Linked DNA regions of Homo sapiens. The protein of the gene in region 2 purifies or fractionates together with the protein of the main gene of each other region. This does not show direct contact. Each region holds a gene or a part of one and is shown on either strand. Other genes may lie near its edges.

Region 1 (4,428 bases), on a different chromosome or scaffold from region 2:
GAACACGGCAGAATGTACCTCTGACTTGGTGATCACGGGGACCTGGGTGTGAAACCTGGCTGTATCACTCTGAGTTCTAGGACCTTGGTAAAGTTATTCAGTCTCCCTGTTCTTGAAGCCATCTCTTTGTCCAACAAATATAGTCCATACCTCAGAGACATGCTGTGGATGATCCCACAAAAGCCTACAGTTTAGAGAGTAGGCTCATCATATATTTTGGCTATCATTGTCATTAGAATTAATTAAAATAGCCTTTGTTAAGTCTTTTATTTCTCATTCATATTCCTGTCTATTACACTATTTGTGGACTTGCTCTTACTTCTGCTACAGATGGTGACTCAGAGGGGCAAAAATCCTTGTTGAAGGGCAGAATGGCAACCAGAATGCACACAGCCTGGTTTCATGATTTGTAAATGTGCTTTTTGTCATTGAAGATTCTGTGGCAATGTCCCAGAGGCTAAGAGCAAAGGTGTAAGTTTTAGACCTTGTGACCCCACTTCAACCAAAGCAGCCCTGCATTTACCTGTCATATACTGGGGGTTTGCCCTAAATTCATGTAATGAATATTTTCATCATTAAAAATAAGTTTAAAAATCATGATCTTAGAATATTAATCTTGGACAAGTCCTTGTAAAATGATAAACAGAGAAACTAAGAAAAGTTTCCATTTATTGAACCCTTAATATGTGGAAGGTACTATGCCAAGTGTTTGCCATATATTACCTCATTTGAATGTTGCAAGAGCCCTGTGAGACATAGTTTGTCATCTCCATTATATGAATGACAAAGTTGAGGGCTGAAACGTTAGTCACTTCTTAGAGTGGGGAAGGAGGAGGTTAGTGTGGGATAAAATAGAGAAGCTAGGTTTTTAAAACAAAGCATAGAGGAAAAAAATATTTAATGACTGTAGAGCTTGGCAACATCCCTTTCAATCCTTGTCCAATTTACCCTGTTTGAGCAAACCAGAGAATACTCATATTGTGCACCTTTTTCTTCCCCACAAAGCAGTCACCTTCCTGAAATGCAAGGGCCAAAGCACGCTGACTTACATCTCCTGCAAATGACTTGTATGCGCACAAAGCCAGAAACTCTTCACTTGGTTGTCTAGGACTGAATAAATCTTCTTCAGTCCTGAATTGGGCTTGCCTGGCTGGGATGGATAGTAGTTTTCCTTTCTAAAACACATATGGGAAAGCTCTGTAAAAATGGGGGAAAAAGTCTACAAAAACATGAAAAAGAGGCATTCATTCTTCAAGTGGTGCTCCCTGTCCTGCCCTCCCTCCGGACAGAAAGCTTTTCCAAAGAGTTTCCAACAGCATCGTACTTCATAGCTGTCAGCTTTAGAATCTGCAGATGCCTAAACTCAAAACCTCCTGACATTCTGGAATCAAAATTTGACATTAACTTCCAGCCCCGGGCTACTACCTTTTCTCCAACCTGTGCCAACACAACCTCCTGCTTGTAAAATACAGCCAAGTCTCAGACCTGCCAGCCTAGTGAGACACCCTCAGATTGGGTGAGATAAAAAGCGGGGGCTGGGGGCGGGCTGAGGAACAACACACAAGAAACAATCCAAGACTGGCTCAATGCCTCTTTTAACTTCCAGAGTGATGGCAGTTTTTGGCAATGACAATGATTATCCAAACTTCCAGTTATTAAGCAGTCATTGCTGATCTTTCTATACCTCATTTTCTCCTCAAAACGACAGCAGACGCTATTGTCCCCATTTTAGAGATGTGAAAACTGAGGATTAAGGAAGTGATGTATCTTTCTCAGGGTCATATGTATGGTGGTGGGGAGAATACCAAACACCTCTGGCTTCAAACCTAAGCTCTTATTCCTCTTACAACACTGATGGGTGAGAAGAACCCCTGTGTTCTTTCCAAAGTACACCAGGGGCAGCAGGGTTCCCATACCTGGGGGATGTTGTTGCTCAGATCTTTCTGTGATGAGAGGTGAGGAGGAGGAGGTGATTCTAGAGACATGTGGGACGCTGCTGGCTCTAGGCACCCCAGTAAAGCTGTTCTCCACCACTCTCTAGCTGCCTGTCAGTTATTCATCTGGCCCAGGAGCCACCTCCTCTCTTCTGTCCCCCAGCTCTCATTTCCAGGGTGAATATTTTGAGGACCAAATGAGGGAATGGGTACAAAACTCTTTGTAAACTTTATGTAAGTGCTGTTTAGATATAAACTTTTATATTCTCCCTGCACTCCTCTATCAAACTCCCTCTAACCCATCCCAGGGGCAGGCTATGAGCAAAGTCTGCCTTAAAACTCTACTGCCCTAACCCTCAAAATAAAAGATATATACAGGTGAATCAGCCAGACTAGAAGTAGGAGAGCAGTTGAAGAGAAAATTTTTACTTTTCCTCTGCAGAACAGCAGAAGATAACAACTTTACGAAAAGTTCCTTCCAAGTCTGACTATTCATAAAGTTAAAACAAACAAAATTACAAGACCAGAAAAGTCAAGGTGCATCTGATATAACCAATACACACTCCTTTTTTTTCCAGCGGTGGAAAAAAAAACCCCATATGTTTTGTAATTATAATATAAAATCACAACTCATTTGGTACCAGGAATGCAATCCTTACATCATAAGGATCTCTAGTGATGAGGGCAAAACAGACTTACCTTTCCGATGGGCGAGAGACCTAGGTCCTTGGAAGAAGTACCTGGAGTGTGGAGCTGCGGCGGTTCCCACGTGCGCGTTCCCCCGAGTTCCCCAGCAGCGCTGCCTTTGTGCCCACGGAGGCGGGGGCGTGTATCTGCGCGCGGGAGAGGCGGGTGACAGTAGGCAGGCTGTGGCCGGTGCAGCCAACTTTGGCTGGCTTATATAGCGAGCTCCTTCCTCTGTAATGGGACGCCTCGCCTCCAGACATCCTTTCCCACTTTTTCAGTTGGCGAATTAAAGGAACAGCCCTCCCAGCGGAACAGGGTTAGCTCATGAAAGACGCACTCACTCCTGGCTCTCGGCCAGGGAAGGAACCCATTTGCATACAATTTATGGCGAAAGTAGGAATTCCCGCCTGCCCGCCCCCGACCCCGAGTAGCTGTTAGTGAAATGTGATTTTTGCTTTGCTCCCCACACGGGTTTTCTAATTGTGAGACGGATGCCTGGGGAGCAAGAGGGAGTAGGATCCGCAGCCCTGGCTCCCCTCTTGTACTTGGTCAAGCTGGAAATGGGACCAGGGCTCGCCTGGGCTCTGGGCAGCAGCTGCTCAGTGGCACCTCGGAGCGAGTACAGGGACTGAGCCCAGTTCCTGGAAAGAGGAGATAAAGCCCTTCAAAAGCCTGGGGGGTTTCAGGTTTCTCTGGGCCAGCGGAGAGATAACCCAGGATTAGGTCTCAGCAGGTGGGGATCGTGCGGGACGCTCACATCAGCCCTGCTTTTCTTGTGTGGGAGCCAGCCTTGCCCAGCTGCTGGGAGGCATCTTTGTTCCAGCCCCAGTGTCCTGCAGGGCAGTAGCTTTTTGACATTGTTCATGCCCTGTGCCTGGTGTGGTCTTCTCAGCTGGGTCTCCAGGGGGAAGGATTTCTGAGGTTTTCTCTTAGTGCTGAAAGGCGTCCCCCACAGCCCTTTCTTTAAAGAAAAGCAATAATTTAAAAAGGTAACAACCTAATCCTTGAGCCATAAGCTGCGCCTTTGCTTTCCAGCCTGCCGTGGATTTCCTCCAAGCTCTGAGTCATCCGTTCGTTTGGTGGTTAGCATGCATTGAGTATCCTCAGGGCATACAGGGGCATTTAAGGGAGTGGAGAAGTAGCACTTCACCCGTGCCTAGAGACTTCTGAGCCTGCCGCAGAGCATAGTAGTTTGTGACAGTGAAGTAAAATGAAGCATTAAATGTAATTCAAAACGCAACTACCATTGAGCCCTCCCTTATTAAGTCTATAATCAGGTGCTGTGCAGGGTACTTTATGAACACTATTTTTGTTCACTATTTTTATTATATCCTTGTAACCAGTAAGTAGGATAGACACAAGTGTCTCTTTTTTACACAAGAAAACTGACGTTTAGAGAAGTAATGAAACTTTACCAAGGGAATACACCTGGGAAGTGTTTATATTACAACACTGGGCTCCAGAGATCTATTACACGTTACTGTTTAGGAATAGGGTATGATGATATTTAAACAATGTTTTATGCTGTATTAGATTGTTAACACCATTTGTGTAGAAATCACAGCCATATTTGAATATGGAAAATATATTTATTTGCTCCATAAAGCTAATTAGGAGAGATCTTTGATTTTTAAAAATTAACTACTAATAATGGAGGTCTCAATTATCCACTTATTTTCAATATTAAATGATATCATCCCCACAGTTATTATTGTTGCTGTGGGCCTCAGTTTCCCCATCTGAAAAAAAAAGCAAGACACGATTAGGTCATCCTACGGTTGCTTTGGCTGTAGTATTTTAGGATTCT
Region 2 (4,498 bases):
GAGAGCCTGCTCTCAAGAAGCCTACAGTGCAGGAGGCATAGAAATAGCAGTCACACAGAGTACAGAGTGATAAGTGCCCCCGAAGAGGCAGAGGGAAAGGGCAGTGGGAGCTAAGAGCGGCTCCAACTGGAAGCCAGGGAAGACTTCTTCGAGGAGTGGCATTTAATCTGGGCCTTGAAGGATGGGTTAGATGTGGAGAAAGGGAATTGAGAGGAAAGAGGCAGGTCCAGAAGTTAGTAAGGTTTACTCAGTCTAAGAGTTCATGCTTCTGAACCTAAACCCCAGGCCAAACCCAGGAAAGCAAACTGGCAGCACTTGCTGCTTTTGCAATGCTAAACATTTCCTTCTGGGCACTTGCCCCTGCCAGCCTCCCCAGGCAGGAAAACACGCGACAGTAGGCTTTCTGGAGCCCCAACTCTGGGCGCTTGCTGGGAAAAGGCTCTTCTCTCCCAATCCTCTCCAAAAGGCCCTACATCCCCAAAGCCAGGGCTCCCTTCCTAGGCAGGCAGAAGGGTTCCCTTCATTTGATTAATGATTTCAGTGGGCAAGCATTGAGCTTGTTTGAGTAGAAATGTTCCTTGGGATGCTGTCTGGGGGAAGAAGACTTGTAATGTTTTCCTTGCAAAGATTGGGTTTCTTCTAATACTAATATTTGCTTTAGGGCTGTTGTCAAACACAGAATGGATCAGTGGAAGAAGGTGGTGTAGTTAAGGGTGACTTAAGCGGCTGTTCTTTACGGGCTGATAGTAAATTGTGGCTGTCTGCTCTCTGAAACTCTGCCTGGATTCCTACATAACCCTGCTCTGAGAACCCTGGGTGGATTCCTTCCTTACAGGAGGCTCGGGTTTCAGGAAAGTTTTTGTTGATAGTGTTCCAGAGCCCCAGTGTGAGAGATTTTTATGTCTTTTCGATTTAGGGGTCAGTGGGAGGTAATGGGGGGGCAGAGGGCATACATTAGCATCATTATTAAAGGAAGAGTGAGGAGGCTAGTGTTTGATAAATCCCAAAGTGCAGCTGATTATTCTCTCTACAGGAAGGAGACAAGGCCCAGTCCTAGGGCTTGGTGGAGGTGAAGGTACAGGCAGCCCTGGAGGATCCTTTTTCAGACATCCCCCATTCTGAGGATTCTGGTGACACCCACCACACGTCATCATGCCGGCTCTGGAGAGCACAAAATAAACACTCCAGAGAGAACTACCCCTTACAGACATGAGATCTGGGCTGAAGACTGTCAGACGCCCTGGCTCTACCCATGTATCTCTTCTTTTTTTTTTTTTTTTTTTTTTTTGAGACGGAGTCTCACTCTGTCACTCAGGATGGAGTGCAGTGGCGCGATCTCCGCTTACTGCAACCTCCACCTCCCGGGTTCAAGCGATTCTCCTGCCTCAGCCTCCTGAGTAGCTGGGACTACAGGTGCCTGCCACCACGCCTGGCTAATTTTGGTATTTTTAGTAGAGATGGGGTTTCATCATATTGGCCAGGCTGCTCTTGAACTCCTGACCTCGTGATCTGCCCGCCTCGGCCTCCCAAAGTGCTGGGATTACAGGCGTGAGCCACCGCGCCCGGCCTACCCATGTATCTCTTATGGTCTTTATCTATAAATGGGTATTAGGGTGTTTTGAAGATTGAGTCAGAAAAAACAAGTTTAAGTACTTGGTAAACGGACACTTTACGAAGCCCATCACTATCATGGGTTACTCGGGCCCCCACTGACAGTCTGCCCTAGCTGCCTGCATCTGCATTCCCACTCTCCCCTCCCAGTACACTCCGTCATGTTCTCAGTCTCTCTGTTTGGGGGTCACCTCACATTCATCACACATGCTTCTGTTCTGACTTCACCCCATGCTCCCGCCTGGTGTCCCACCCTCTGCCATAAAGTATCTCCCGATGGGATATGCCATCTGCCTCCTGGTCAACATATCCGGCTGTTTTCACATTCCAATTCTGACAGACAGCCACATAGACAAGAGATACTTTTTACAACCCTGAAACCAAAAACAACTTTGTTTTCTTTCTTCTCAAGAAGTCGAGCGGCATCTTCCCTTCCTTCACCTCTCCTTTCTCCTGATTTGATGACCTTTAAGCACCCTATGATTTTGCGAGGAGAACCTATATCCTTCCATTAAGAAAATATTCCGATACATGAAAAATCAAAAGCCCTTTCCATTGGTAATGGAAGGAAAAACAGCTGCCCTCAAACACTTCAGCAAGGACCAGCTTCTGGCTCTCACCACCATCCAGGGCAAGAAGGGCGGTCGTGGCACTCTGCATCCTACCTGAGATAAAACGTTCTCCTGGTTGTCCGCCTCGTTTTGCAGAGTCTCGTCCTCCGCAGGCGCCACTGTCTGCGCATCTGGGGGCTCGCTTGTCCCTGTGAGGACAATGCTGGACACCCAGGCCGGAACCACAATCAGAGCGAAGTAGAGAACTAGCAGCCGAGGCTTGGCCATGAGGGGCGCGATAAGAGTGTCCTCAGCCCCTTCAGAGAATGGCTGGGGCGGGGGGTCTCGGCAAGGACTTCTGCGAGAGGGTGTCCTCGCTAGAGCCCGAAAGTGGCTGCTGAGAGCACCTTCTAAAGCTGGGTGCGGCTGAGCGGGACGGGAGGGTGCGCCCCAGAGACTCTGGGCATCTCCTTCCCGACGCGAGCAGCCCTCGACTGTGCAGCCCCAGTGGAGAGCCGGACGCAAGGAAGAGGGGATGACGGAGAAGGTGGAGGCGGGCACGGGCTAGCTGAGCGAGTCGCCCGCAGGAGGGCTCAGGTGGCTGGAAGGCGTTCGGACAGACGCCCGCGGTGCGCGCCGGGACGGGCGGCGGGGAGCCTCGGGACGCACGGGGACCGGACACGGGGAGGGAAGAGGCGGTGGCGGCGCGGGCTGCTGGGCGAGGGCTGCTGGGCTAGGGAGCCGCGGAGAGCTCGCGCGGAAGGAGGGCGGAGCCTCTATTGTGCCGGGGCGGCGGAGATGCAGCCAGTGACCGCGCGGAGGAGGAGGACCTGGAAGCGCACAGGGCTCGGGCGGAGGGGTACCCGGCGGACCCCGTCCCCGCTGGGACTCAGCTGCCGCGCGCCGGCTGAGGGTGACGTTGGAAGGGCTTTACTTTCTTCTCATCTGATCGCAAGTGAGTGAAGAGAAGTTACTCCGAGCGGCGTCCCTGAAGTTTTGGGGTTCGACCATTCTTGGCGAGAAGAGCGACTTTCCATCGCAGGCACCCAGCGCTCGCTCCAAGGCTGAGCTAGTTAGGGATCTGCGGCATCGTCCTTTAGCACACCTGGGGCAGGGGAGAAGGCGCGTTTGTTCCCAGGCGTTTCTTTTCCCTGACTTAACTCTGGGCGAGTTCTCGGGCAGCTTTGAACTTAGCGCCGTTGGTAGCTGCTTGCCTGCCACGGCTTTAGAACCTAGTAATACCTCCACCCAGAGGAAAATCATTGAATTCCTTCCTAGAGTGTGTCCTGAGTTGTGTAAACGTTGAAAGTTAGGGGAATGACTGTACATCTCCGACACTCTCCGCGAGTCCCCATGGGGAAAGCTACTGCCTGATAAATGATTACCAAAGGGAACAGCTCTTCCTGTCTTCCTGGTTTGGGACAAATCTCCGGGTCTCTGTTACCAGATTATCTCTAAGAGGGAGTCCACTTTCAATAGTGTGCAATTATGTTACTATGTCCCTCAATTACTGAGGACAACCTTTTATAAACCTACAGTGAAGATTACCAATATGTGAATTTAAGGAAGGGCACTGTGCCATCCTGGACAACTGTCACTCGGAATATTGAACAGAGCCAGGCCCCTTCAAAGGATATTATGCACCCTTGGGAAATTCAAACACCTTGCTTCTTATGCTGAGGAATAAGGGTTGTAATAAACTAAGGAAACTAGCGCATATAAGTAATAGTTGACATAAGTATAATAATAACCCTTATTAGTATATTTTAATCTTCAAAAAATTCAGTTTATGGACAAAAATTCAATGCTCTGGGTGTCTAGGTTTGTGGGGACATCATGCACACACCCTCCTCTGTGTAAGCTATCAAATCTTTTCTGAAACTATATGGGGGTAAACATTGATAAAATGTGGTGTATTTGATTGTTTGTTTGAGACAGAGTCTTGCTCTGCCACCCAGGCTGGAGTGCAGTGGCGGGATGATCTTGGCTCACTGCAACCTCCGCCTCCTGGGTTCAAGTGATTCTCGTGCCTCGACCTTCAGAGTACCTGGGATTACAGGCGCACGCCACCATGCCCGTTTAATTTTTTGTATTTTTACTAGAGTTGGGGTTTCGCCGTGTTGCCAGGCTGGTCTCGACCTCCTGGCCTCAAGCCATCCATCCGCCTTGCCCTCCCAAAGCACTGGGATTACAGGGGTGAGCCACTGTGCCCCACCGATAAAGTGTAGTTTTAAAATTCAGTTAAGGGGCGGAGTGTGGTGGCTCACCCCTGTAATCTCTACTGAAAATACAAAAATTAGCCTAGCCTGGTGGCATGCACCTGTAATCCCAGCTAC
Region 3 (3,748 bases), on a different chromosome or scaffold from region 2:
AAGCCTATAATGGTAAATATGTTCAGAATAGCTTTTCTCCTGTAACATCGTGACCTGCATCTAAGCATCTAATAGCCTCCACCCATGCCCTTGCAGCAAGAATCAGAATATTTGTTCCTGTTTTAAAGGCACAAATGGTCCTAAGAGCAGATTTTCAAAAATGGGAGGAACAATAGCTCCAATGGACCAATTGCAGCATGCAGATATCTTGACCTTTGCAGGTGGTGTAGAATGATGTGGTGCCTACATATCTTTTGGCATCTACTCTTTCGAGATGCTACCTCCCCACTCCTCTTGCCTTATCAGTCTTCCATCACAAGCCAGACTAACTGAAATTCTCAACAATTTCCAACCTAGAGAGGGCGATAATCTGACGGCATGTACATTGGTTCCAGACAACTAGGGCAAGACACATTCCTCCCTGAAAGCACCCCCTTGGTCAGGCTCATCATTTATTCGTCACTAGATGTAGCTTTACTGCCAAAAGACCTACTCTTGTTTATTCCCCTCCCTCTCTACTATTTATAGTTGGTCTAACTTTTTACAAGCTTTGAATAAAACAGAGAATGTGACCTAAGATGTGTTATTAAATGTCCATACACATAAGATGGGGGAACAGAGAGTCACAGATGGTGACAACATGGGTAAAAATTCCTATCTACTTGGAATAAGGGCAGAATCAAATTTTACTCTAGTTTCATTGAGATGACACTGAAATGTCAGTAGCAACAGGCACATTCAAGTGTACCCTTCTTCCAAGCAGATCAGGCCAAGCAATTCTGGCCATTGGGACGTCCATTATACTGCTCACCTGGAAAAGGCAGCGCCCAGCACAAACGCAGCATACTCCTTCACGAGGGGCTCTGTGCTGTTCAGCCCATTGATCACCACTTGAAGACCACCAAAGGAAAGCAGGTCCTGCGCATTGTCCATCTGCAACAGAGCCACTGCTTAGTACAGCATAGCCATCAGGGACAGGAAAGCTGTTCTTAGAGCCTTTCTTTTGGTGACTACCCAAAAACAAATTAAAAAGCCATGGAAAAATCAATAATGGCCTTTTTGACTAAGAAAAGGTTTGTAAAAACCAATTTTTTAATACTCTTAAATTTGAGAACTCCTAATTCATCTAACACGATTGATGAGCACCTGCGTGGGAATCAGCAGAAATGACACCTAGCTATTGCTTATGCCAAACATGTCCTGGAAAATTCTAATATCATAATGAGTCACAAAGCTTGCTCCTAATGTACAAGCTGTTAACACAAAGAATCTGGCGTCATCAGCACCACTAAATGGTGCCATGCTTCCTGCTGATGTCCAATCCCAATGGGGACAGTGGAGGCAGATTTTTAAAGCTGATTTTAAATTAGAAGCTAGGGACTATAAAAGGAGCCCTGTTATTGGGAGGGGGGTTGCCGTAAGAGTGCTGGGGAGGGGGGAATAACAATAGTACCTTTCTCTTGCATCTCAGGTTGACTGCATCTGAAGACATTCATGATAAAATATGCAAGAAAATCGCTCTCCCAAAGGTTTCTGTCTAAGCCTGTGCTACTGGCTAGTGGCTATGTATCAGACAGTGCAGAACATTTCTATCATTACATAAAGTTCTATTCAACAGCATTGGTCTAGGCTATCATTTAAGCTCCAAATCCCCAAGTCCGGATTCTCTCTTTTACTCTATAGCGGATCTCATTACCCACAGTTTATTAGTACCCTGGAACAAGACAACTCGCTTTCCTCAGAAAGGTCACTGGATCCTGTTTTCTACATGTACCCGCTACAGTCTCCCTCGAATATATCTTTGTTGCCACAAAGGCTGCATCTTGCCCATATGCTAATCCCACGCTATCAATCATGAGGAAAACTCAGGAAGCTGAAGCCCAACAACTGTGGCTGCTACCCATCTTTCTCCTCCAGATTCCACAGGGCCCCTTCCCAACTGCATCCTTGCCTCTCTGAACTAGGAGAGGACTCTGACAGAGAAATCAAGTGTGAGGATTGGTATTTGACTGTGCTAGTGTTTTGTGGTGGCCTAGCCTGTTGTTGCCACTTGAAAAATCATATTCATACACATTTGGATGGAATCTCCATGACAGCAGGGGTTTTGTCTGTCTGTCCACGCTTGTAGCTCCAGGGACTAGGATGGTGCTGAGCATATGGTTAGGTGTTCAATGAATAACTGTTGCATTAATGAGTATGAATTTGATCAGAAAAGAATGTTCCTGAAATAAAGCTCCAGTGTGAATAAAAAGGCAATCTGGGGTATCTGTGCCAACAAAATGAATGGGCCTCTGGTACCGCAGACATGAAGTAATGGCTAAACCAGGTTGTGAAGTAAGCATGAAGTCTGCTCTGCCATGTGGCCCCAGGCCATGGACATTTTTCTGCCCCAAACTGTTCTTATGAAGAGGAATAACTGGTTGAGCCACAGCCCAGCTAACTAGGGAGACTCAGGGTTGGGTGCTTTGCTGACATAAGCACCTTCCTTCCTTCCCTACATGCTCTAATTTTACAATGTAAGAATTCACTACCTATTCTTTGGTTGTCCTTCCTCTGGGTTTTCTGGATACAAAACTATGGCTCAGAATCCTGTCATACCACGCCTGGAATGGCCACTTATAAAGCTGGTATGAGTTCCTAGCAGAGCAGCTGCCACTCGGTCAGCTCCAAAGCAACACAGCCCAGAATCATGGACCTTCTGTTCTAGAGTCAGTTTATCTACTATTACTACAATGATAATTCAGCATGATAGAAATGCAGACATTTATATAAGCACTTCAGCCTTTTTGGGATGTTTTCTCATGGTTTACTTCACTAACAGTGAGGAAGAAACGATTCATTCTGCCCAGTGCACATCAAAAGCTGGGCCCCCCCCTGGTGACATACAGGAGAAACCATGACCATAGCCCAGGTCCACAGCTCCCCATCTCGGTCTGGGGCCAAAACTGTTCTCAGGCTGCCTTCGGGGTGGGGTGGGACAGGCAGAGAGGAAGAGGAGGAGGGAGTGCAGGAGGGAACTATGCCAACACCCTGGAGGAAAGGAAAGAAGCAGGGCACTGATAAGACAATGAGAGAATGGGAAACAGCGAAGGGGAAAAATGGTGGCACACAGCTGAGGAGACACGTGGGAGAAGGCAAATGTACTGCCCGAGGTAGATGGGGCGGACGGAGGCCGCTCCTCATAAATAACTCACCATCTGTTTCCACACACAAGGTTTTGCTTTTCACATATCCTGTTTAATAATTCAAATATGGCTGTGAGGAAGCCTGGCAGACCTGGTTTGGGTCCTTGGAGCCTACAGCTCCTCAAACCACCATTCAGTGAGTCTGGAATGAGAAAGGACTGGGGAAGTTCCTGGCTAGGAAAGTGCCATCTTCCTTAAAACTAGTACTACATCACCCCAAGCCCCCATCACAACTGGGACTCGGGCCGAGTTGTGTCTTACTTAATCCCCCAGTGAAATCACAGCTTAACATTGCTGCATGGCAGCCTGATGCACCAGCCCTTCCAGTCAAAACACCAATGATCCAGAACATTTCTCTGCCAACAGACAAATTTGGCTTCTGCCAGGGACTGATTTTGGGATGACCTCAGGATGGGTCTGGTGAGGTGGCCTGTGAAAGCAGAATGGGGATGTCACCTTAGGGAAGACACTGCCAAGTGACAAAGAGCCTACAAGGGAAAACAAAGAACTTTGTTGGGGCAATGCTAGCCCAAGCCTCCTGTGGACTCACACCCTTCCAGGTA

Evidence for each region. Proteins that work in one complex are often made in the same cells at the same time.
Region 1: the proteins of OLFML2B (region 2) and TNC purify together in Homo sapiens (co-immunoprecipitation; one large-scale study listed by IntAct). This does not show direct contact.
Region 3: the proteins of OLFML2B (region 2) and SIL1 purify together in Homo sapiens (co-immunoprecipitation; one large-scale study listed by IntAct). This does not show direct contact.

The regions. Positions count from the first base shown.
Region 1 is NC_000009.12:115,115,349-115,119,776, forward strand, and holds the start of TNC (tenascin isoform 1 precursor), read right to left. Parts: upstream 2,810-4,428; 5' UTR 2,634-2,809; intron 1,176-2,633; exon of another isoform or gene 1-1,175. UniProt on the Homo sapiens protein: Extracellular matrix protein implicated in guidance of migrating neurons as well as axons during development, synaptic plasticity as well as neuronal regeneration. Promotes neurite outgrowth from cortical neurons grown on a monolayer of astrocytes.
Region 2 is NC_000001.11:162,020,981-162,025,478, forward strand, and holds the start of OLFML2B (olfactomedin-like protein 2B isoform 2 precursor), read right to left. Parts: upstream 2,890-4,498; 5' UTR 2,451-2,889; coding exon 2,277-2,450; intron 1-2,276.
Region 3 is NC_000005.10:139,020,360-139,024,107, forward strand, and holds part of SIL1 (nucleotide exchange factor SIL1 precursor), read right to left. Parts: intron 934-3,748; coding exon 812-933; intron 1-811.